4 linked regions of the Homo sapiens genome follow. The protein of the gene in region 1 purifies or fractionates together with the protein of each later gene. This does not show direct contact. Each region holds a gene or a part of one and is shown in the gene's direction. Other genes may lie near its edges.

The links.
Region 2: the proteins of FBXL5 (region 1) and CUL1 purify together in Homo sapiens (affinity purification with western blotting; 12 studies listed by BioGRID and IntAct, with this or other methods). This does not show direct contact.
Region 3: the proteins of FBXL5 (region 1) and CIAO1 purify together in Homo sapiens (affinity purification with mass spectrometry; 3 studies listed by BioGRID and IntAct, with this or other methods). This does not show direct contact.
Region 4: the proteins of FBXL5 (region 1) and MMS19 purify together in Homo sapiens (affinity purification with mass spectrometry; 5 studies listed by BioGRID and IntAct, with this or other methods). This does not show direct contact.

The regions. Positions count from the first base shown.
Region 1 is NC_000004.12:15,603,850-15,610,359, reverse strand, and holds the end of FBXL5 (F-box/LRR-repeat protein 5), read left to right. Parts: intron 1-4,560; coding exon 4,561-4,637; 3' UTR 4,638-5,979; downstream 5,980-6,510.
Region 2 is NC_000007.14:148,701,903-148,708,935, forward strand, and holds part of CUL1 (cullin-1), read left to right. Parts: intron 1-7,033. UniProt on the Homo sapiens protein: Core component of multiple cullin-RING-based SCF (SKP1-CUL1-F-box protein) E3 ubiquitin-protein ligase complexes, which mediate the ubiquitination of proteins involved in cell cycle progression, signal transduction and transcription.
Region 3 is NC_000002.12:96,269,225-96,274,706, forward strand, and holds the end of CIAO1 (probable cytosolic iron-sulfur protein assembly protein CIAO1), read left to right. Parts: intron 1-43; coding exon 44-131; intron 132-1,886; coding exon 1,887-2,127; 3' UTR 2,128-4,949; downstream 4,950-5,482. UniProt on the Homo sapiens protein: Key component of the cytosolic iron-sulfur protein assembly (CIA) complex, a multiprotein complex that mediates the incorporation of iron-sulfur cluster into extramitochondrial Fe/S proteins.
Region 4 is NC_000010.11:97,495,421-97,502,377, reverse strand, and holds the start of MMS19 (MMS19 nucleotide excision repair protein homolog), read left to right. Parts: upstream 1-3,955; 5' UTR 3,956-3,993; coding exon 3,994-4,105; intron 4,106-6,957. Other genes in the region: UBTD1 (ubiquitin domain-containing protein 1), read right to left, coding at 3,105-3,174. UniProt on the Homo sapiens protein: Key component of the cytosolic iron-sulfur protein assembly (CIA) complex, a multiprotein complex that mediates the incorporation of iron-sulfur cluster into apoproteins specifically involved in DNA metabolism and genomic integrity.

The DNA.
Region 1 (6,510 bases):
AAAGCCTTTAAAATTTACAGGGTGACTTGTTAAATAACTTGTGTCTGAGTTCCACATAGGTTGTTCTTAAAGCAATGCTCTCTCATAGTCTTTTCCTTAAAAGGATATGTGGACAACCTAGAAAGTGTTAGAAAGAAGTTGTGTTGTATCCAGTTTTGCAAGATGACACTTGTTCCAGTATCTTTCAAAACAGCTCAGCTTGTACAGTAGATATCTAGTGAATGCTCAGGGGCATCCTTGTTACTATTTTTATTATTTCTGAAAGTAGTGTGTTTTAATACGTGGTATTAGAGCAATGGAGAAGTGTATTTAGGTGACAAATTATATTTCAAATATTTGAAAGTGACGTTTAGCTAAAAATATATTTTTTAAAAGAAAACATATATAGTTAACTATCAGGTTACTAAATGTAAAAGAAGTTAATACTGATAAACATTAGTCATTAAGTAATACATGATAAGTAAAGCAGAATGATCTATTTTCCAAGCATTAGCAGAGATTTTGGAGATAATAAGTTAGTTATCATATATTCAAACAGTGCCCAGTACAGTGCAAGACACTGTACATAAAGTGTCTTGATATAAAATGCAAGTCTAGATTCTTCTGAATGATTCTTTATGACTTTTAAATTTATTTGATAAGATTTGAAAAGTCTTCTTAGCCATAACATTAAAAAATTTCTTTAACATTTAAGAAGTGTTAAATGGAATAGCATAGTTGTAGAGCTGTGAAGAACATTTGAGCAATGATAGCAAATAAACTTTTTTACTGATTTGCATTTCAATGTATGTATAATTTATAAATTAAGATAGATTAGCTCATAGTTTTGGAGGTGACACAGTCTCAGATGATGTGCTCTTTTATGTTTCTAATTTAAGTTAAAGAGGAATTAAAGGTAAGTGAAGGTAAGTGCAGATATACAGCATAAGTAATATACTTAGAACTCAGTAAAAACAAGTTATTCAATAATAAAAGTCTGGAGAAATAATAGCTAACCTTATACTTCCTATCATCTGATACTTAAAAATGCTTTCTTATAAGATTATTCTTTACCACGCATTTAAATATTTTAATGATTATTCAATTATATTTTTCTATTTTCTTTATTATTCCTTAATGTAATTTAGGCTTTATATATCTTAACCATTTGGGTTCTGTGTCCTACATCGAGATGGAAGTTTGCTGGTGATAAGTCAAATATTTAAAGGGAACTACCTTGTGAATTATCTTCGTCTGTTAAAGCATAGCTGTCTACCTGGCAATCCATCATATCTTAGTCATATTTCTTTCTAGTTTTCCCTCACCTTTTCTGTTGTCCATTTATTCTGTTGTCCATTTATTCACTTCTCTGAACAGTCCTTCTGTGTTACTTAAGGATTTTATTGTTAATGTTGCTTATACTTTCCATGCTTTGGAAGGTGTTAGTCTCCTGTTTTCTACAATGTGATACTGAGTTTAAAACAGTGCTTGTCTTCATTTTTGTTTTGGCTCAGGCCTTCAGCAGATCCTTTAATGGGTGCTGTCACTTTCATGATTATTGGGATCAAATACCAGTAACTACTCTTATTATTTACCTTATCATAGGATTGTAGTTTTGAGTCATTTAATACTATAGTTACTGATTAAGTTCATATAGCCTTCTTTAAACAGATTCTGCTTTCAAATTTGAAAACAATATATTCTCTCTCTTCACTCTGTATACTTAGAATCTCACTGAAACTCAATTCTGGTGAACTTAAAATGTATTCAGAGTTCTTGCCTATATTCATATAAAATGTGTCTACTCACTGAGTAGACACATTTTATATGAATATAGGCAGGAACTTTGTTTTGTGATAAATAAGGAGATGCTGACAGTAGGTTTGTGCTTTTTACCTAATACAGGGTAAAAACTTTTATTTCTACATTTTTCTTCCCCCATTATCTCTGCCACCATCCCTTAGACTTCAGGAGCATAATGACCCAGGTAGCTAGGGTGGAAACTGAGCATGTGGACCCTACATCTTTTGGGGAGGGTGGTGAAAAACTGTGTCATGTCAGGTTAGATCTGAATCTCTAGGAGAATAGCTTTTTTGATCTGTTTGCTCCTTTGAGTCTCCCTTTTACTTTATCCTTTGAAAACCAATTGCATACTTCACTTCCATTGCTTCCAGATATGGCATATTTTTCTTAGGCTACTGTTGAAATTTAGCATAATATTTCTCCCTTACCTTTCTGTCCTTTTAAAAAAATAGGACTATAGTAAGTCCTCCGTGTCGGTGGTATGTTTTTGGAAACTGACTTTAAAGAAAACATACAGGAAGTCCTCAAATAGTGTCATTTCATTATAATGATGCAAACAAAACAACTACCTTTGTTATACGTTATTTTGCTTAGAGTCGCAGTTTCTAAGAACCTATCGATGTTAAGTGAGGACTTAATGGTATAGACATTTTGAAATATTTGAGGGAGTTGCAGTTTGGAAAAATTGTATAGAGTCTTCATGTCTCTTCTTATTTCTTTAAAAAAATTTAGAATGGAATTTTAATCTGATAAAATGATAATCAGATCCATTTTGGCAAAACCCAGTGAATCTGGCATTTCATGATGGACCTAAGGGTCAGAGCAGGAGAATGGCAGTGAGGCAGGGCTTGTGTCTTGAGGAGAGGCACTAGGTGATTGGTAGACAAAACAGTGGGCAGTGTAAGGGGTGAGGAAAGACAAGCTAAGAAGGGGAATAATGGGGATTGGGTGGTGCACAGTGGGTAAAGCTGGCATTATATTCAAAGGAAAAACTTGGTTAAAGATTGGCAGTGGGAGAAGAATTTCAGATCATAGGGTTGCTTCTCAGGGCATTTTTAATAAGTATTCAATATATACTAAAACATTTTATCTTGAGTTTGTGATTAAGATGATTAACATTGTTTCTTATTTTAAGGGAAAATAATTTTAACAAAATGCTGCTTTGTGAATTTTAAATATTTAACATATTTAACTTCTCATTTAAAGACCAGAAAAGATTGTTATTTTGATTAAATAAAAATTGGCTTTAGTAATTCAACTTTATATTTAAAATAATTTTAAACTTCCTGTTATGGAAAAATTTAACATCGAATAATACAACGAATCCTCATGTACCATCAGCTTCAGCAGTTATAAACCTGTGGGCAGTCTCCTTTCATCTATACCATTGCTCATTCCCATATCTACTCCGCCATTAAGCTAATCACAGGTGTCATATCAACTTAAAAATTAATATGACTGAAAGCATAAGCTGTTGTAGTTCCACATATTTGCGTAATGTTTATTAGTTTCTTTCCTAAGACTGTATGTCTTAAGAAATTTGCCCTTTGTATTTTGTATGTGCCATTTGGGGAATATAAGGAAAAGTTAAATTTCTGGAAATTAATGTGTTCTATGTGTTTAGTTGGAAGTAATTGTTATGGTAGTATTAGCTTACTTGCTTTTTTGTTGTTGTTGTTGCAGCCGAGTGCTGTTTTAGAAAATAAAAAGTAAATTTAAAATGTGTTTTTGAGTTAAGCTAGATATCACCCCAGAGTACTGTGATTTTTCAGTTACAATCCATTTGATATATTCTGCAGTAAAATTATATTTCATGTACAGTTTTCATTTTGTATTGTTCCTTATATCACAATTGCAAGTATTTTGGTTGTTCTTGTTGATATGTAAAGAACAAATTAACTACTCCTTATTTGTTCATGGTATAGACATAATGAAAGACTTCAATATAGTTGAAACAATCTTTTCCACATTTGCCTGCTTTTATGAAAATATCATTCATTCAGAGTACTTGACATTTGAATATGTGCTGTGAAACTTCTTCTTTGATATTTTCTAATTCTCAGCTATGTTCCCTAATGGGTCTTGTATCTAGTGCCTGGGTAGCATAGTGTGACTGGGATAAAATGTCAGTTATTCCACAGATTTTTTTTTATTCTTTGTAAGTGAATGATAATTTTTACTATGGCTACAGTTTAATTGATCACTCATTATATATTTAATTTTGGAAAATAATTTCATCTAACCCTACCATATATAGATATTTTTGGCTACAAATACTAAATAAAAATATGGCAAATATATTAAATCTTTGTCTATATAGTTTATTTTGCTTTAAAATTTGAAGATAATATTTATTGTAATTGCTCAATACTGACTTCTTTAGCTGATCGATTATAGTTAGGGCTGTTTTTTGCCTTTATTACATTTCTAGGGAGGATGTTCAGATTATAAGAATCTTTTTATAAGTTAGCTTGGCAATCTTGCTTCTGTGGATTGTCTCATTTCCATTTTGGATTTTTATATTGTAAGTTGTTGCTAAAAATTATTTTTTTCCCTTCTTCCACTTACCTTTTGGACCATGAAGGATATATTAATTAAAGTCAAGCTGCTATTGAGTTTTGTGTCTGAATAATTTCTTATACACTTATCATGAGATTTACTTCTATCATATAAGTACTGCTAGTAAAACCAATGAATGTTTAACTCCTTCATAAGCAAAATTATTTTTATGTGATCTCTAAGAAATTCCTCCTTTCACATTTTTCTGTTTTCATACAGGTCCTCATGCTGATACCGCCAGTGGATGCCAGAATTTGCAGTGTGGTTTTCGAGCCTGCTGCCGCTCTGGCGAATGACCCTTGACTTCTGATCTTTGTCTACTTCATTTAGCTGAGCAGGCTTTCTTTCATGCACTTTACTCATAGCACATTTCTTGTGTTAACCATCCCTTTTTGAGCGTGACTTGTTTTGGCCCCATTTCTTACAACTTCAGAAATCTTAATTTACCAGTGAATTGTAATGTTGTTTCTCTTGCAAATTATACTTTTGGTTTAGAAAGGGATTAGGTCTTTTCAAAAGGGTGAGAACAGTCTTACATTTTTCTTTTAAATGAAATGCTTTAAAGAATGTTGGTAATGCCATGTCATTTAAAGTATTTCATAGATAATTTTGAGTTTTAAAGTCCATGGAGGTGATTGGTTCTCTTTACACATTAACACTGTACCAAGCTTTGCAGATCTTTTCCGACACACATGTCTGAAGACTTATTTTCAAAGACAGCACATTTTTGGAAACTAATCTCTTTTCCGTAATATTTCCTTTATTTCAATGATTCTCAGAAGGCCAATTCAAACAAACCCACATTTAAGGTTCTTTAGGATTATAGAATAAATTGGCTTCTGAGTGTTAGCTCAGTGAGCTAGGAAAGCACCAATCGATATTTGTTTCCTTTAGGGATACTTTGTTCTCACCACTGTCCCTATGTCATCAAATTTGGGAGAGATTTTTTAAAATACCACAATCATTTGAAGAAATGTATAAATAAAATCTACTTTGAGGACTTTACCAAGTAATACTGTTGTGTTGTGATTTTTATTATAAATCTCAATCCAGGTTTACTTTAGTATAGAATAGGACTACATACTTTGTCTTTGGACCTCCCATGAACTTATTACCCTGACAAATAGTTTTAGACAGATACTGAATTTTATTGAGCTGAATTTTCTTTTTGAAATGAGTTATTCAGTAGTCAAAATTTGAATCCGTAAGTATATCTACTTTGCTTTGTTAAAACATCATGAGAGTGGAGGCCTGCCACCCAGAAAGGCACATACTAGTGCCTTTTAGTACAATTTTATGTCATGTAGAAGAAAATGGCAATGTTCCTCCTATTGATACAGATACAGGCATATGTCATCTTATTGCGTTTTGCTTTATTGCACTTTGCAAATAATGCATTTTTTACAAATGGAAGGTTTATGGCAACTCTGCGTTGAGCCAGTCTATTGGTGCCATGTTTCCAATAAAACTTCTCCTTTCATGTCTCGTATATTGTGATAATTCTTGGAGTATTTCATAGTTTTTCACTATTATTAAATCTGTTGTGGTGATCTGTGGCCAGTGATTGTTGTTACTATTGTAATTGCTTTGGAATGCCATGAACTGTGCCCTAATAAGACAGAGAACTTAATTGATAAATATTATGTATGTTCTGATTGCTCCACTGACCAGTGGTTCCTGTCTCTCTCCTCCTCAGACCTCCCTCTTCCTAGAGACACAACAATATTGAAATTAGGCCCCAGCTTATAACCTTGCAGTGGACTTTAAGTGTTGAAGTGAAAGGAAGAGTCATGTCTCTCACTTTAAGTGAAAAGCTAGAAATGATTAGGCTTAGTGAGCAAGGCATGTCGAAAACTTAGGCCCAAATCTACGCTTCTTGTGCCATACAGCAAAGTTGTGAATGCAACAGGAAAGTTCTTGAAGGAAATTAAAAGTGCTACTCCAGTGAACACCCAATGATAAGAAAGTGAAACAGCTTTATTACTGATATGGAGAAAGTTTTAGTGGTCTGGATAAATGAAACTAGCCATAAAATTCCCTTAAGCCAAAGCCTAATTCAGAGTAAGACCCTAACTCTCTTCAATTACATGAAGGCTGAGAGAAGTGAGGAAGCTTCAGAAAAGGTTGAAGCTAGCAGGGGTTGATTCATGAGGTTTAAGGAAAGAAACC
Region 2 (7,033 bases), on another chromosome or scaffold:
TTCTGGAATAAAATGTCTTTGGGGGACTGTCAGCTTCATTTTGAACTTGTCTTTTAGGTATGTCTGGAGAAAAGAGTGTTAACCATTTTAAGGGCCAATTCTAAGGTTGCCTTGCTTTTTAAAAACATTTGGTAGTTTATCAGTGTGTTTGTTTTGCTTCCAAATGAAGAAATGAGCATTAAATGAAAAATAGATCCTATTTGGATAAAAGCCTTATGTTTACTACTGAGGACATAATTTCCTGTTTATAGGAGGTTTCCTGTTTATAATATGAAGATTTAGTAAACACACTATAAACAGAATTATTATAACATTTAATGACTTAAGTTTTTTATTCACTCATGGAGGTGTTTCATTTCTAAAAATTCCGTGAGGGAGAGAGATTGAAGTCATTTATTTTTGCTTAGGTATAGAACATCTTGCTTGGGAGAGAAGACATGGAGTCTAGTTCAAGCTTACCTTTGCAGGGCATATATTTCCTCGTTTTTAAAATGAGATGGTTTTTAATTGACACTGTTGATTTCCTTAGGCCCCGAAAGTATGTGGATTCCATGGGAATGCCACAGCTTTTAACATTAACAGGATTTTGGAAAAACGGTCTTAAAGAACATTAAGTATTGTATTCATGTTTAAAAAGCAGGGTTGTGAAGCCTAAGTTTGATAGTTAAATTTTTTCCCTTGGGAAACTTGGACCAAGTAAGCACTGGTCTGCCTTTCCTAGTGTTGACTCCATGCTTCAGCGCTATTGCAGTTCCATTCTGGATCTGACTCTTTGCCTTTTCTATCACCTGACGGCTCACACATCACCATCTCTGGAAAGCTGGCCCTGATGTCCTGGTCTGGGTTAGGAGCCTTCTCTGGGTTCCCATGTTGTCCTGCCTATGTCACTATCACAGTATTTAACCTTTTGATTGTAGTTGGTGGTTTCTCCCACCAAACTGACCTCCTTTGGGACAGGGACACTGTGATATGCATCTGTCCCCAGTGCCTAGCATACTGCATGCATCAACATTCACATACATCCTTCCACTGGAAATCTTTACAGTGCCCTCTGAAGTGTGGGTACTATGGTTTAACCCACTTTACAGAATATAGGTGAAGGAGCTGAGACTTTGAGTGGTGCAGGTAAGGGCTAGGAAGGTAGTCAAGCCCGAGTTAAACGGGACAGGATAACTCCGGAGCTCAGGCTTTTAACCAGATGTTCCCTGAGTGTTTGACTAGTTTATGTGAAGATGGAAGAAGACTAGAAGAGATTAAAATGAAAATGCTTTAAGGACTGATATCTGATCATTATGGCAGAATTCATTATGCAGAACTGTGATCCACTACCAAGAATGAGCTTATTCTTCCTGGTCTTTTAGTAACATTGTGGGAGAGTAATTGGGCACTGATAGCATAGACACGAACAGTTCTGGAACTTTGGGGCTATTGTTAAATTGGGTGTGATGTTATGACTCATTGGCCTTGCAAAAATTTATAAAACCATTCAAGACTGTTCAAATATAACAAGCTGCAATTTTTTTAAAGGTCTGTGTTAGAAAATACTTCGGAAAATAGATTGTATGAAATGGGTGCAGCCATTTAAAATATGTATAAAGTGTGTATGTACTAGTGAAGGTTTTTTTGTTTTTTGTTTTTTGTTTTTTTTGAGACAGAGTCTCACTCTGTCGCCCCCACTGGAGTGCAGTGGCGTGATCTCGGCTCACTGCAACCTCCGCCTCCTGGGTTCAAGCGCTTCTCCTGCCTCAGCCTCCCGAGTAGCTGGGATTACGGTGCCTGCCACTACACCCAGCTAATTTTTTGTATTTTTAGTAGGGACGGGGTTTCACCATGTTGGCCAGGCTGGTCTCAAACTCCTGACCTCGTGATTCACCTGCCTTAGCCTGCCAAAGTGCTGGGATTACAGGCGTGAGCCACTGCGCCCGGCCGTGAGGATATTTAAAGTAGTAAAAATGGCTGTCATTTTAGGGGGGTAAGCTTGGGTGCTTTTAAAATATTTTTTCAAGAAAAAATTTAAGAACCAAAAAGTAACAGCATGGCGATCTCAAGATGGAGAAGACCTAGATATAACACCAAGCACGGGAACTGTAAAGGAAAAGATTTGAGTACTTTAGAATAATAAAACTTCTCTGTGTTAAAATTCCATAAACAGAATTAAAAGGTGACTGGCAAACAGAAAAATATTGTAACTTACAAGCAAATTTACTTTCCTTACTGTAAAAAGAGGGCATGTGAACACCACCAACAAAAGCGGCCCCCCCCCACCCCCGTGGAAAAAAATGGGCAAACTGGTAATTTATAAAAAGAGGAGCAGGAAACATGAAAAAACTTTCAGCTTTACTAGCAGTACTCCCAGAAATGCAAATCAGTGAGATACTGTTGTTGTTTTTTTAATTGGCGTAGATTAAAAAATGAACTACTTATGGTGAAGGTATGGAGAAATGAGCTCACTCATACCTTGCTAGAAAGAGTGTAATTTAATATGATTTTTTGAGAGCAAAGTACGTAACAAAAGCTTGTAAAATATGTATGTGCTTTGAAATAGCTATTCCATTTCTAAGAATTTAGTCTAAGAAAATACAAAAAAAATGACTACTAGATTAATATTCTGTCCAGGGTGTGCTGTTATTTAACTAATACCCTCTTAAGCATTTGTTTTCGTTTTTTTGCTGTTGTTAAGGATGATTATTTCAGCATTTAGATCAATCTTTAACTTCCATAATACTGTATTTAATGAACATTTAGTTAGTATTAATGATAAAATGCAACATAAAACAACATATGTAAGTAATAGCTAAACTTTATTTTGGTGTGTGAGTATATGCATTTTTTAAAAAGATGAAAACCAGAATGTTAGCATTGATTGTCTCTGAGCAGTGGAGTTATTTTTAGTTTCTCTTAGCAGTAGGTTATTATTTTTTTTTTCCTCCAACTTTCTACAGTGCACATATATTTATAGTACAGTGGATTAATTTATAAAATCAAGAAATCCCAAAACAGGAGAAGCAGGGGAGCTACTTGCAAGGAAGACATTTCTGCTTAGTTTAATGCTGAAATCACTTAGTGTTTGCCGTACTGGCAGCCCCTTTCCAGGTGTGTTGATGCACAGGGTTAAATATCTGACTTCCGTTGGGCTGTATTTCCAGCGGTCAGGTTCTCCTTTGCTGGACTAATCTTCTTCTCATTTATTTCCCCATATCTTAATCCTTCAGATACTTTAGTCCCCTCATTTAATGCCCTCCATGAAACTGTCCTAATCTCATGAAACTGATTGATGTTTTGATGGTTTATTGTAACACTAGATTAGGTACTAATGAATTGTCTTCAGTGTGGAAGTTTCTTTTTTTTAGTAATAGTGTGAACTTTTTTTGCTTAGTTCACAACTCCTAGTGATAGTAGATGTGTTTTAAATTAATCTTTAAACTTAATGTCATTATGCTTAAGATAAGAATTTGCTAAAAATTAGAAAAAGTATTTTGGTCTAGTTTCTGCAGTAGCTTGGAAAATTCAGAGGCTACCATCAATTATTTAAGAAGTGTATGCTAAATAGTACAAATGAGGAATACTGTTGTAATTATGAGAAAACCGTTGCACAGAAACGTGTCACCTAATGCTGGGAGGGGGCACCTTTGCTATGTCGAAATTAATTAAATGCTAACTAAAATAGTTACGTGTGCCTAATAGGCATCCGAAAGTCAGAACGGGGGAAAAAGGCTGACAGCTCAGACCTCCTTTTCTCAAGGCAGGAAGGAGGCTTTGGTGAGACTGGAAGGAAAGGTTTGGAATCCTAGATGATGTCAATAAACCAGACTCTTTGATCCCAAGTGGAATTCAGGGAATAGACATGAAGACTAGGCCATTTCCCCCTCCCCAAACTTCAAGCTTATCTATAGGAACTTGGAGACTTTGGTGTGGGGGATGGTGGAGAAGAAAAATTCCAGACTGATTCTTCTGACTTCTCTCATTTTAAATACGTAAAATCTTTAAAACGTTTGCTTGCCATTTTATCTTACATGCAATAATAACCCTTAGTCTAGGTTGAGCATCCCTAATTTGAAAATCCTAAATCCTCCAGAATCTAAAACTTCCTTAGTTACCAACACGATGTGACAAGTGGATCATTTCACCCCGACCTCATGTGATGGGCCACGGTCAACATGCAGGTGCACAACAGTTTATTCAGTGTCCCCAAGGGGAAAGTAAAATTACCTTCAGGCTGTGTGTATAAGGTCTATATGAAACATGTGAATTCCCCGTTTAGATTTGGATCCCATCCGCAAGATACCTCAAATATTCCAAAATATGAAACAGTCTGAAATTCAAAAGACTTCTGGACCCAAGCATTTCAGATAAAGGATACTCAATTTGTGTTCAGTGCTTGGTATGAGCCAAAGACTGTGCCGAGCTTGCTTTGTGACTCCCTAGCTGCTTGCCCTCAGCTTTCTGCTGCTTGGAGATACCTCAAATGGGACAGAAGGCTGTCTAATGCAGTCCTGGTTGAGGATGGACTTTGACACACAGCATGGGAATATATTACATCAATCATAAAGTAGAGACTACTGAAATGAGAGGGTCTCCTATTTGATGTGTTGATGAAAGGCTACTTGGGCATCTGTGTAGAGTAGGTCCTACCAACAAGGGACTCAAAACACACAAAGGGAAGAAGGGTTAGGAATGCTGAAGACACATACTGAAATTGGCTCTTCAGTAGTGCCTTTGTTACATGTTCTATATATAGGGGACTTTGCCCTATACAGGGTATGTGTGTTGGGGGTGGGGGCGGCGGGGGGCGGGGTGGGTGTTTAATGTCTGCAGTTTAGCTGGGGCTTTACAGGTGAAACGTACTGTATGTGTTCTCTCGACATTATGAAGATTTTGTTTGTTTTGGTCACTGGTATTTTTATAATGGAGCTCTGCCTTACTACTCTACTTGTTTTACTGCATTTTCAGGATTTTTATTTAGGCCAATATTTGGCTGTCTGTGTTCTGTGATATGTAAGGTATGGGAATAGGAGGGAAGATCTGTGAATAAACGTAGGAAATGCCAGGTGGCATATTGAAGGGCCTTTAAAATCTTAATTTGTTTTGCTGCTGTTACAGGGAGATATATCTTATAGGGTATGTATATATGTATACATACCTACATTCATATATATTAAAAGGTCCACTCCTAATTTAATAAGAAATTACCTTTGAAGGAAGAAAACTCCCCTACCATATTAACATGTTTTGTAGAACACATACTGATTTTAAAATCATCGAATGTGGAAAATTAGGTCTTTACAGTAGAGATTTGATATGGAGTGAATTGATGTGTTCATTTTTTTCTCTTGGAACGAGCACCTGGAAATATTCGTGGTTCTTTGTAGCACAGTGTGGGAAGTGCCATAGAGGCCAGGATCCTAATGAGTATGGTTATAAGTTTAGTGTCTAGAAATAATTTTTGCTTCACCCTAGTCCTTGTTTAAATCCTAAATACTATCAGAGGAATTATATTAAAAAAATTTTAAAGCATATGGGAGACAACACAATCAAAGCCTGTGTCATTTACATGTTATTGGTGGTGTCATGTTGAGATCACTTTTTATTTTTTTAAATAATAATTTTTTTTTTAAGTTTCAGGGTACCACAGGTTCGTTACATAGGTAAACGTGTGCCATGGTGGTTTGCTGCACCGATCAACCCATCACCTAGGTATTAAGCCCTGCATACATTAGCTGTTTTCCCTGGTGTTGGTCCCCACACCTTCCCTGACAGGCCCCAGTGAGTGTTGTGCCCTTCCCGGTGTCCATGGAGAACACTTTTTAAACCTGTAAAATAATGGTTTAACTACAAAGTTGTTTCACATTTTTTCTTTAAAAATCTAAAACTTCCTGGGTTTTAAAAGCATCTCAATACTTCTCTTGAAGGCACTCTTAGATTTGTACTTGATTCATTAGATTGGTTCTCTTGCATTTCCAATTCATGGTTTCCAGAGGGTGAACGCTGTTCTCAGGATGTCTTGCGTTAGAGGAGTTTAGGAAGCATCACCAGGTCTGTTCTCCAGTGTCCCCTTCTGAGTAGGGGCCACATCGCTCATTTCCCAGACTTGTGGACCAGGTTACCTTTCTTTTTTCTTGGGTGACCTCCTGAGGTTAGGGTTCTGTGCAGAATACTTGCTGTTCCAGTTCATCTTATCTTTTCTAACTCTTCATGAGCATTCAGGAGATAGCTTTAACTTGATCCTCTCTTCTAGTCTTTTTTGCTTTGTGGTTTCTCAGTTTTTTCAGGTTAAGCAATTCTCAGCAACTTCAGCTGAGAGCCTTGCAGTCCTGCTAATAGCCTTCAGGGCTTTTGCATTTGACTAACCTGGCCTTTCTTCCAACTTGGCTTGCCCCAAACTGATCTCTTTTTTGCTCCCTAGACCATATCCGACATCTCTATTTCTAGCGTTGTGTCAGAGACACAGATTTCAGACTTGACTTCTTTTGTTTGTCCATATTCAGTGATCTACCAAATCTTACTAGTTCCTCCCCCATAACACTATGTGTTTATACCTTCCTCTTTGGCCCCGCTGTCACCAGCTTCATTCTGCCCTCACGCCTGGCGATGCAGTGCGCTGCTGATTGCTGCTTCATTCAGGACTTGCCTGGCTTCCTTGATTACAGAGGCTCTCCAGGGCAGGTATTGGGCTGCTAGCATTTGATAGAGTGGGCTCTGCTCTTTGTCTTTGCAGCCCTTTGCCACAACCATCCTATCTCATCTTCATAAGCTTAAAAAAATCCTGAAAATCTAGCTGTGTGTATCATGCTAACATGCTTTTTAAAAAAACTGGCTCTGCTGCAATTTTCACTTGAAAGTAGCTGGATGTTGGTTCTGGGTATTTGTCTCTATCTCAGCTCTTCAAACTGGGAATGTGATTTCTAGTAACAACATTTAGCAAAATTTCAACAAAGCAACCAATTTGCGGAAGTTGTGTTAACTTTGAGGTTTTGCCATAATAAATTATAAATGTTGGAATTTTTCTATTGATAAGGCTAACTTGTGGAAAACT
Region 3 (5,482 bases), on another chromosome or scaffold:
AGGACATAGGAACGTTTAAGGGCAAGAGAAGTCTGTCTTGCAGGGGTGGCATGCAGCGGCTCTGACCCCAGTTGGAAATGTATCTGTACTTTGTCCGGCTTCCACTCAAGGACCATTTATGACATTGCTTGGTAAGACTCCATCCCCCCACCCCATCCCATCCCCATAAATCAGGGATTTTAGAGAAGGCATACCCTATGCAGTCCTCTGCAACCCTGGGGGAGTGCTTGGGAATTGAGGGCAGCCACCCCCATTCCTTATCAGGCCTGACTCTACCATGCTGGTTTACAGCTGGCTGGGCTGGCATTCACAGGAGCAGAGAACAGTCCCAGGCTGTGAGGGTAGCACCAGCGCTAGAGGTTCGCACAGCTCGTGCTGTCCAGAAGTTATTATTGAATCTGCATTCGTGGCTGAGGGTTTTTTTTTGTTTTTTTGTTTTTTGAGACAGAGTCTCACTCTGCAGCCCAGGCTGGAGTGCGGTGGCGTGATCTCATCTCACTGCAAGCTCCGTCTCCCGGGTTCACACCATTCTCCTGCCTCAGCCTCCCAAGTAGCTGGGATTACAGGCGCCCGCCACCATGCCTGGCTAATTTTTTATTTTTAGTAGAGACGGGGTTTCACCGCGTTAGCCAGGATGGTCTCGATCTCCTGACCTCATGATCCGCCCACCTTGGCCTCCCAAAGTGCTGGGATTACAGGCATGAGCCACCGCACCTGGCAGTGGCTGGGGTTTTTATAGGTAACACTGACTCTGGCCTTGTGGAAGCTGGAAAAGCTGCACCATTCATATAGGAGAGTAGGTTAGAGGGTAGTTCTGGCCCTGAGAATTGATCCCTAGGAAATCCAAAACAGTGAAAAAAACTGAGCACTTAAGCTTGCTTTATATTAGCAAACATTTGGGAATCACCTATTCAACAAAAGTGAACTTAAGTAAATTATGGTAGAACTCAGCTTGTTGTATCACTGTTTAAAGAAAGGGGTTAAGAATACTTTATGATGGGGCCAGGCGCTGTGGCTCACGCCTGTAATCCCAACACTTTGGGAGGCCAAGGTGAGTGAATCATGAGGTCAGGAGTTCAAGACCAGCCTGACCAACATGGTGAAACCCCGTCTCTACTAAAAATACAAAAATTAGCTGGGCGTGTTGGCACGCACCCAATCCCAGCTACTCAGAGGCTGAGGCAGGAGAATCGCTTGAACCCGGGAGGCGGAGGTTGCAGTGAGCCGAGATTGCGCCACTGCACTCCAGCCTGGTGATGGAGCAAGACTCCATCTAAAGAAAAAAAAAAAAAACTTTATGATGGCTGGGCCCAGTGGCTCATGGCCTGTAATCCCAGCACTTTGGGAGGCTGAGGCAGGTGGATCACTTGAGGTCTGGAGTTTGAGACCAGCCTGTCCAATGTGATAAAACCCTGTCTCTACTGAAAATACAAAAATTAGCCGGGCATGGTGGCACATGCCTGTAGTCCCAGCTACTCAGGAGGCTGAGGCAGGAGAATCGCTTGAACCTGGGAGGGGGAGGTTGCAGTCAGCCAAGATTGTGCCACTGCACTCCAGCCTGGGCGACACAGCAAGACTCCATCTCAAAAAAAAAAAAAAAAAAACAACTTTATGACATGGGAAACTGCTTATGCCAAGTGAGGAAAGTGCAGTTCATAATTGCATGTCGTTTTTTAGGATAATCATAGTAGGGGAAAGAACTAGATTGCAGCATCTGAAGATATAAGTGGGTGATATTTGTGACTCCTTATTAGTTAAGGAAACATTTTAATAAGAGGTTTTTAGCTGAGGCCTGAAGTTAGGGAAGAGAACAGGCCAGGAACTATGGAACAGGTCTCTCTGGCCTAATTAGTCAGGTATACCCACTGATGTCACTTTCCTTCCAGGTGTCAGCTGACAGGGGCTCTGGCCACAGCTTGTGGGGATGACGCGATCCGCGTGTTTCAGGAGGATCCCAACTCGGATCCACAGCAGCCCACCTTCTCCCTGACAGCCCACTTGCATCAGGCCCATTCCCAGGATGTCAACTGTGTGGCCTGGAACCCCAAGGAGCCAGGGCTACTGGCCTCCTGCAGTGATGATGGGGAGGTGGCCTTCTGGAAGTATCAGCGGCCTGAAGGCCTCTGAGCTACCTCGACTTTGGACAGAGTAATGACTCCCCAGAAAACGTCATATAAGACTTTACCAGCCCCTGAGAGGACCAGGAGGAGCATCCTTGACCTTCATTTAACTTGGCTCACTTCTCTTCAGACTTGGGTAGAAGTGCAGAGCCACAGAATTGCTTTCCTTCCCCGCCTTTGACATGAGGCCTTCAGTAAAGAGCTACAGAACATGAGTACATTGTTATACCACAGATTTTTCTTGCATTAGGGCACAGTGTTAAATTTTTTGGAGGTAAATATACTATTTATAATCACTATATATAGTAGGAGGGGGTATGTGTCTCAGGCTTTTCTGAAGTTGCAAGACTTAAAGAAATAATCCATCTGCATCCCAAGTCCTATTTTATAAGGATATTCATAAAAATTCCATGGTGAATCCTTGTCTGAAATAGGTCCTCCCTTCCCAGTTTCTGTGTAAGTCTTTGCATTTAAGACATCCAATCAATAATGAAGGAAATTTTTTTCTGAATGTAGGTTTGAGTGAGGGGCACCTCTGCTTTCCCTTAGCAACCCTCATATACCTCCCTGCACCGTTACGCTGTGATGGCAACTGGGGATAGAAAAAAAATGGGGAAAGACAGGAATCCTAAAAGGGAGAGTTATTACTGGCCACAAGCCCTGTATTCTCAACAGGGATGCAAATTGGTTCTTCAGTAAGGATAAAAAAAAATCACAAGCAGTTGTTTGTGGCCCTCCTAAGGCCCACAGCACATATAGTGTGTCTGTGATATTCCATTTTCATGGCAGGGAGTGATCAGGAAGAAGGCTTCCTAGGGGACTGGCGATTTAAACCAGTTGAGAAACACTGCCATCAGCAGGCAGTTTCAGACTCACTCAAGTTGTCTCTTGACAGTCACTTCTAAATGGGTTCTAATGTGACAATGGCCTCCAAAACTACAGCCTTCCCTGAAGTTTAAGCTGTGACCTTAGATTTTAGAAGGACAGTGGGGCTGTACCTAGAATAGTGGTTCTCGAAGAATGCGGCCTGCAGATCCTGGGAGTCCCAAGACCCTTTCAGGGAGGATCTGTGAGGTCAACTGTTGGCACTGTGGCATGAATCAAGGTGGTGGCAGCAAACTTCTAGTAGTTTTGATATGTCCTTGATAGAACAAATAGCAATGGTTAACTATTAAATGTTGACCTAGCCAGCGCAGTGGCTCATGCCTGTAATCCCAGCACTTTGGGAGGCTGAGGCGGGCGGATCACCTGAGGTCGGGAGTTCGAGGCCAGCCTGACCAACATGGAGAAACCCCGTCTCTTCTAAAAATACAAAATTAGCTGGGCATGGTGGTGCATGCCTGTAATTCCAGCTACTCGGGAGGCTGAGGCAAGAGAATCGCTTGAATCCGGTAGGTGGAGGTTGCAGTGAGCCGAGATCATACCATTGCACTCCAGCCCAGGCAACAAGAGTGAAACCCTGTCTCAAAAAGAAAAAAAAAGTTGACCTTGAGAATTTATAATATTCTGAGAAAACTGGAAGCATGCATAAAGCCCCTCTGCTGTGCACTGAAGTATGGGTGCCTTGAGGAAAAGCAGTTACACAGTTGAGTTGCAAGCTGAATTGGCTGTGTTCAAGGCATGCCCTTTAGAATTGAAAGAACTAGCAGATTACGGTATTTAGACTTGAATATTTGGCTGATATTTTCTGGAAATTAATGGAATGAGCCTCTCACCTCAAGGGAAACAACTGATAGTGTTGCCAGTGATAAAGCTTTCAAGCAAAAATTGGAATTTCCGAAAATCTGTACTCCACCATGAGCTTTATTGTTGGGGATATTAACAAATGTGATTTGTATAATGAAATGCATTTCATTTGGAAGAATTCAATGAACCATTTTTCCAAGTGACCAGTACGTGATGTTACAAAATCATGCATGGCTCAAAGATTGATTCAAAAGTGTAAGACAGGCCAGTGGATTTTAATGTATTAACAATATAAGAGTGCATTAAGTTTTCGGAGTCTACATTGCCTTTAAGAAACTATGACTTGTAGTAAGCCGGGCGCGGTGGCTCACGCCTGTAATCCCAACACTTTGGGAGGCCAAGGTGGGTGGATCACAAGGTCAGGAGTTCAAGACCAGCCTGGCCAATATGGTGAAAGTCCGTCTCTACTAAAATTACAAAAATTAGCCGGGCGTGGTGGCAGATCCCTTGTAGTCCCAGCTACTCGGGAGGCTGAGGCAGGAGAATAGCTTGAACCCGGGAGGTGGAGGTTGCAGTGAGTCGAGATCGTGCCACTGGACTCCAGCCTGGGTGACAGAGCGAGACTCCATTTCAAAAAAAAAAAAAAAAAAAAAAAATCACTTGTAGTCTTGGTGTGGTATCAAAGAATAGCCACAATTAGCTGAAAAGGCTATTTTAAAAACTTTTCCAACTGCGTATCTGTGTGAAGTCAACTTACTTCAACAAAAAAGTTTGGATGTAGAAGCAGCTGTAAGAATTCAACTGTTTATTATAACAAGATACTAAAGAGACTGTAAAATGCCACCCTTCTCCTTGGATTGTTTTGGAAGTTATTCTTCATAAAAAATGTTAACGTGGGCTGGGCATGGTGGCTCATGCCTGTAATCCCAGCACTCTGGGAGGCTGAGGTGGGCGGATCACTTGAGCTCAGGAATTCAAGGTCAGCCTGGGCAACATGGCTAAACTCTGTCTCTATTAAGAAAAAAAATGTTAACATTATGATTTAAAAGTGCATTAACCTTAATCTAGATAATAAAAGCTTTTTGGGGCAACCTCCAGAACTGTGAAAAATAAATTTGTTATTTAAAAAGAAAAAAAAAAAAACAAAAACCTGAGTTTCTTAGTTTTTAGTAGTGTAAAGAGGTCCTAAGACCAAATCATTTGAAAACTGCTACCCTGAGGAAACTGCCCTTCAGAATCATCTTTCAATTTTGTGTGCATTTAATCTAAAGAACAGAAGGTAAGAATTTGAAGACAGTCGGAAGATCTGGATTAGAAAACCTGTTTATTAAGACTGGGTCACATCCAGCTAGTACATTTCAGTGCCCTTTCTGGTGCTGCCTCCCAGGAGCAGACACTGCAAATTTCAGAACCCCCATCTAGAGAAACCCCTAACCTGTGATCTAGCTTCCGAGGCTCAGTGTTGGTTCTTGTGGTAGTGCTGATGTGTGGGTACCACTGAGGCCAGGCCACAGTCGCATGTACCCTCCTCTGGGCTGACTCACGAGGCTACAGGGGACAGCACACCTAATGAGCAGGTCTGTCCTCCAGACATACTCATTAACAAGCACGTTCCTGGCTAAAAAATAACCAGATCTTTTTGGCCGTGCCCTCAGGTTGGAGAAAGAAAACTTTTA
Region 4 (6,957 bases), on another chromosome or scaffold:
TTGTCAAAGGAAAAGCCACAGATGTTACAGGAATGCCAGGTGCACTGTGGAGTTAAGAAGGATTCCTTCCCTTGTACCAAATTTGTCATCCTACAGAGTTCCCCTCGGCTTTGGACTTTATGAATAAAGCTATTCATAGTAGGACCCACAGAACTAAAGCAATGATAAACTAGCAGGTAAAAAAAAAAATGCAGATATATGAAAAATGCAGATGGTAGGATGAAGTTGAGTTTGCTTTCTAAAATCAACAAATACTGAGTGCTACTTCTGTACAACTCATTGTGTTAAGTGCTGAATGTGTGTGTGTGCGTGAGAGAGACATATACTACAAGGATAAGACAGAACCCAGGTCTTCAAGGCTTGCAATGTAGTTGCTGATAAAAGACTGTAAACATCAAAGACATGATTAATAATACAGAGTACATAATTGTTAAGTAAGTGGCATAGATAATGTGTCTGCAGGAGTTCTCAGAAGGAGCAATCACTTCCACGGGGTGTGTGTGGTGGGGTGCGGAGGGAGGGGGAAATGGCAGACTTGTCAGGCAAGGTGCTTCAAACAAGGCACGGCACTTGAAATGAACCCAAAGGATGAAAGACTCTCGATAAGAAGGAAATGGCACGAGCAAACACTGGTGGTCTTAATGTCAGAGAAGGGAAAGAAATCAGGACTTAAAAGAAAGGACTGGCCCACACTTGAACAGCCTTGAAAGTTAAAGTACTTGTAGGAGTGGGAAAATGCAGAAAGGTGTTTTGTTGTTGTTGTTGCTGTTGTTTTGTTTTTTTTTGAGACAGAGTCTCGCTCTGTCACCCAGGCTGGAGTGCAGTGGCGCAATCTCAGCTCACTACAACCTCTGCGAAACTTCCAGTTCAAGCAATCTCCCTGCCTCAGCCTCCTGAGTAGCTGGGATTACAGGCGCCTGCCACCACCATGCCTGGCTAAGTTTTGTATTTTTAGTAGAGACAGGGTTTTGCCATGTTGGCCAGGCTGGTCTCGAACTCCTGATCTCAGGTGATCCACCTGCCTTGGCCTCCCAAAGTGCTGGGATTACAGGCATGAGCCACCACGCCTGGCCAAGTACAGAAACATTCTGAACACAGAACTATAAAATCTGGAAGAAGTTAATTTAACAAATGTCTTCTGTGGGGACAACTGTGTGTAGGACTGAATGATGACTGAAGATGAAGTTGCCTTTGGGGGGTACCTCACTTCAGCCTGAGACAAGGGTTGACTTGAGGTGAGAAGGGTACAAAGTAGGGTGGCAAGGGGCAGGTTTGCAAGTCCCGCGGAAGGAAGACCCAGCAGACCCCAATGACTGGCTGAGAGGCAGGCGACAAGGAAGCAGAGAAAGTCATGAGAGAAAGAGCTCTTCACAGCCTAAAGTTAGGCAGCTGGAAGAACATAAGAGTAAAGAAGGAAAGCTGGTGGACAGGGAGCGATGCAGAGCCTGGTTTTGGAGGTGTTAAATCTGGGAATATCTATATCACAGTGTCCAGTGGGCATCTAGAGATGGGGTTCTGGGGTTCAAGAGAGAAGAGCTGAAGTTTAAGCATAGGGGTATTCCCAATGGACAAAGAGTTGTGGGACTGAACAAGATTTCTCTGGGAGAGAGTGTAATGAGAGAAAAAACAGAATGTCAAACTTAAGCACCAGCGTGCCCCCAAGCTAGAAGGTGATGGTGGAAAGGGGTGTTCAGAAAGGAAAACCAAGACAGTCTGATGCCAAGAAAGGAAGGGGGGGAATGTCTCGTAGGAGAGAGTTGTCAACAGCAAAAAATGCTGCAAAATCAATTATGGGGCCTGAACACATATTTGTTGAACAAATGAATGAATGAAAGCAAGCCAGCCCTTGGTTTTGAGAGTCATCTCTCCTCAGCCAGAAGAATGGCCAGAGTTACCTTCAGACAAGAGAATTTCAATAAGTTTTACTGCATCCTTCCCATAAAAACACATTTCTGCCTCCACAAGTCATCCTGTCCACCATGCAGACATCCTTCCCTGCTTCCCCTGGTTCCCCCATCTTCCTTCCCAGTTTCCGCAACCCAAGCAACACACCTTCGGTGTCAAGGGAGACAGGAAACTCCAACTAGAGTTTCCACTTCATTAACAACTCTGCCTGTGGCTCCTCTTACATAAGGGGATATGTGGCAATGGGGTGGGAGAGGAGGCTGAGTTCTAGCCCCAGGTGAGCTCCTAACTAGCTGTGTGACTTTGGACAAGGTGTTCAACCTCTCAGGATCTGGGCTTTGACACAGAGTAGGAGATGGGTCCATCTGGAATCCAGACAAGTTTGAGCTCTCAAGTCTACGATATTATTCCCAGCGGGTCCTTGCAACACCCTCAAAGAAGGAAGTGAGTGTAAGACCCAGAAAAATGACCGACAGACCTCTTCCCGGGGCGAAATGCCAGGGCAGGCGGGGTGTACCATGAAAGTGAGAAAGCGTTGCGCGGGCCTGGAGGATCACCAGCGAGCGATCTCACTCCCAAAGCTGGGAAGGATCCCAACAATCCCAAGGGTGACTCTCACCCCGCACCCCATCTTTTATAGACTCCCAGACGGCCGAGAGGCTCTAAAAACCCCTGCGGGAAAAATAAAGATTTCTTTCCCAGAGTCCTGCGCTGCTTTGCAAGTCGGATTCCCGCAGACACGATCTGCAGCTCGATAATGACACAGTCTTTGGAAGGAGCGACTGTTCTCGCCTCGCTCGCTCCGAGTTCTGGGGACGCCTGGCTGCCCGCGCCGTGCCCCGACGGGCCGGCGTCCGACCCCGGCCGGAGCTGCCAGGCCAGCGGCGCCCTCGCCCCCGGCCTCCTCCCGATCCGTCGGCCCCGCTGCGGTCTGCAAACATTTCCTGCCCCCACCCCCACCAGGAGCTACCCAGTTGGAGAGAGTTGGTCGCGCAGCCGGCTCAGTGCTCGCAGTTGCCCCAACTCAGCTCCCCCGGCCGCCCGGCGCTGGGGAGCGGCCCCCTCTGGCTGCGGAGCAGCCCATCGGGGAAACCCAAGCGCCAGCACCAGTGGGGAGTCCATCGGTAAGCCCAGGACTCGGGCGAGGAGGGGGACAACTGGCGGGATGCCCGAGGCCCTGCTCCCTTCCCCATCGTTACCTGCTCGCTTGCGGGGGTGTCCCGGGGCTGCCGGCCTCTCCCGGCGCTGTCTCCCCACGCAGTTGCCCATGCTGGCTCCTCAGCCAGTCCCCATGCACCGGAGGCGGCGGGGTGGTCGGCTGCTCAGCGGACGGCGGCGTCCCGGGTCAATGGCTCCGGCCGCCCGGCATCGGGCGCTCCCCGATCTCCCCCCGGGGGCGCGCTCAGCCCCAGCGATGGCTCCGCCAAAACTTTGCGGGCCAGGGGAGAGAGGGAAGTGGCAGACTCCCCAGCACGGTCCCAGGTGGCCGGGCCAGGGGGGCCCGCGACGGTGCCCGGCCGGAGACCAGCTCCGCTGGAGGGGCGGAGAGAGGGGGCGGGCACCGCCGCAGCTACTCCCGGCTCGCTCGGGGCACCAGGCAGGGGCCGGCCCCCTGGAGCCTGTCACTCACCTGCCTAACCCCGCCCCAGGCCGGCCCCTCTCCCTTCCGCCGGCTCGCGGTGCCCGCGCCGCCGCCACCACCCGCCCCAGGTGCGCATGTGACCGACAGCACCGCCCCCTAGGGCTGGGCCTGATTTTCTCATTGGCTTCCCCCGTGGTGCGTACCGCCCCTCTCCCCACCCAGCCAGGTGCCCGCCCCGCAGCCCGTCTCCCGGGGAGCCGGGCTGGGAATTATTCGCCCTCAATCGCCTCCGGCTGCGTGCCCAGCAGCCGCCTTCCCTCTCGGTGCCACCGCCCCATTTCAGGCCCCGCCCCTCCCTGGAACTGCCTAGGCAGAAGCCGGCAGGCACGTGACCCCGGCGCCCCGCCCCCTTGCGCTTCCCCGGAGATTGGCTCGGGAGGCGCATGCGCGGAGAGCCCGTCTCGAGCCACCGCCCATATCCCCTCCCACGGTCTCTAGTTCGCGTTATGGCCGCTGCCGCGGCTGTGGAGGCGGCGGCGCCTATGGGTGCCCTATGGGGCCTCGTGCACGACTTCGTCGTGGGTCAGCAAGAGGGCCCCGCTGACCAGGTGGCTGCAGGTACGGCAGACGGCGCCGCGCGCCTTCCGCATGGGGGCCAACAGGAGGGAGCGGCCTCAGTACAGGCGCCGGGCGGGAAGGGAGGAGCGGGGTGACTTTGAGAGATTGGTCTCAAGGCTGGTTAGTGAGCACCGCGAGGTTCAGAGCCGTAACAAGTTAGAGAGTTGCCTGTGTCTTCCTTAAAACCATTTACACTTCTCATCTCCCTGTAGCCAATTATAGGGAATCATTACATTTTACAGATGAGGAAACTGAGGCTCAGCGAGGGCAAGAGGACTTGCGCAGGGCTGCAGACCAGGCAGGAGGGGGAGGTGGGACTCGGACCCAGGCGTTCAGGTCCGAACCGGGTGCTCACGCCACGAAGCCATGCTGTTTGTGGGAGGTTGACGTGTGGAGGTGCATCCTCGCAGCGTCCGCTCCCGTCGCGTGGCATCCTGGGAGTGGCAGATGGCCCCGCGCTCTGACTGGCTGGAATTAAGAGGAGTTGAGGAGACGGGCCAGGAGGAGCTGGAGATGTTCTGGGTGTCCTCCTTAAGACTTTCTCTCCGTTTCTTGCTAAAGTTCTTGATTAGTTTGCTCCATGACGTTTTATGTGGCGTTTGTTTTTGTCTTCTTCCCAGACCCCCACTTTCCTGCTTTTGACCAGTTCAGAGATCTCTTAGTTCAGACAGCTTATCTAAAATTAGAATAAAACGATTTCCAGGCTTCCGTGGAGTTCTGAGACTTTGCTCTTCTAGGAAAAAAAAAAAACTACTAAAAAGTTATTGAATGTTAGGAGGCCTTCAGATCTTGGGTTTAAGTAACAATATAAAATTATCTAATGAGTAGTTTTTTTAAAAAAACTTTGGAAATTTCGTATGCTTGGAGAGAAGTAAGGACACATTTCTCTTGGATATTGAGCGTATTAACCTTTAGAATATGTAAGAAAAGAATAGTGAATCTGCTAGAAATATAATACTTTGTTCGTTAGCAGTATTCCACTTTAATTCAATCATGCCACTATTGTTGAATACATATTATTCCCCAAACATGATGCAAAGCAATAGGAATATAAATACAAATTAGGTTAGATCTGTGCCCACCAGGAACTTATAGTATGCTGGGAGAGGCAACCATTCTGTAAGAGGTGTGTGCAGCGTAGTTTGGAAGCATCAAGGAGCAAATACCTGGTGCTGCCACCAAACTTAACATCTTACAATTTTATGAAATGTAGTGTGTTATCAGTGTTTACAATTTACAAGTACAGTGTCTTACCAATGTCATTTTCCCTCATATTTTATTATGAAAATTTTCGAATATCCAGCCAAGTATAAAGAATTTTATAAGGAGCACATCACTTAGGATCTATCCTACCATTAACATTTTAATATTACTTGCTTTATCATATAGCTATCCATCCATTTAAATTGCAGATACCTGTACACTTTCCTTTAAATACTTTGGCATGCATGTCATTGACTAGAGTTTGTTGACGGTTTATTTTGATGTAAAATGGAATATATAAACCTTTAAGTGTACGTTCACTGATTTTGACTAATGCATACACCTATACAATCCAACCCCCTACGAAGATATAGAACATTACTATATCAGTGTCATTTGTGATGAGTCTTTCACATTTATGCGATACGAAAACAATAATTTTGGATTTTTTTTTGATTCAGAACATATTTTGAAAAGACATCTTGAATGTCTTATCTTGAATAAGGACTTATCTTGAATAAGGACTGCAAATTCTTCTCTTTTTTTTTTTTTTTTTTTGAGACAAGGTCCCTCTCTGTCTGCCAGGCTGGAGTGCAGTGGTGAAATCATGGCTCACTGTAGCCTCGACCTATGCTCAAGCAATCCTCCTGCCTCAAGCCTCCCGAAGTAGCTGGGACAACAGGGAGTGTGCCACTGCGCTCGGCTAATTTTTGTATTGTAGTGACGAGGTTTCACCATGTTGCCTAGGTTGGTCTCTAACTCCAGGACTGAAGCCATCCTCCCATCTCAGCTTCCCGAAGTGCTGGGATTACAGGCATGAGCCACTGGGACTGCTAAATTCTTACAAACGTTTTTGCAAAATTTATATTTTTGTTTCTTTCTGAAAAAAAATGGTCTAAACTGTTGCTTAATTTGAATTCAACTCAACTGATTTAAGACTGTAACACTAGCCCTGTTGTAATTTAGCCCTCCTAAGAAAAGAAAGTTGGTGGTGGGCACAGTGGCTCACGCCTGTAATGCCAACACTTTGAGAGAACAAGGTAGGCGGATTGCTTGAGCCCAGGAGTTTGAGACCAGCCTGGCCAACATGGTGAAACCCCGCTCTACTGAAAATACAAAAATTAGCCAGGCATGGTGGTGCATGCCTGTAATCCCAGCTACTCAGGAGGCTGAGGCTGGAGAATCGCTTGAGCCTGGGAGGCAGAGGCTGCCGTGAGCGGAGATCGCGCCCCTGCACTCCAGCCTGGGCAACAGAGCGAGACTCCGTCTCAAAAAAACAAAAAGAAAAGAAAGTTGGTACAAAGGAATAGTAACAGATAAAAGTTGAAAAGGTTTGGTAGGGTTGGATTGTGTATAACTTTGGATTCCAGGCAGAGAAATTTGAATGACCTGTTATCTGTACTAAGAGTTGTTGTAGATCCTTGAGCCAGGGAGCCATAAAATGAAAACAAATTTGACAAGGATTAAGTTAATATTGTCAATCTTAGATCACAGCCCTAGTTAGGGTTGTTGAAGGATAACAGAGTGTTGAAGCGTTTATAGAATAAGATGTGCTTTCTAATCTTTCAGCCTAAATCAAGCTTTGTTAGCGCTAAAGGGACCAGCTAGCTTCCTGTTCAGTCACTCAGAGTAGCAGCCTGCAAATTTAA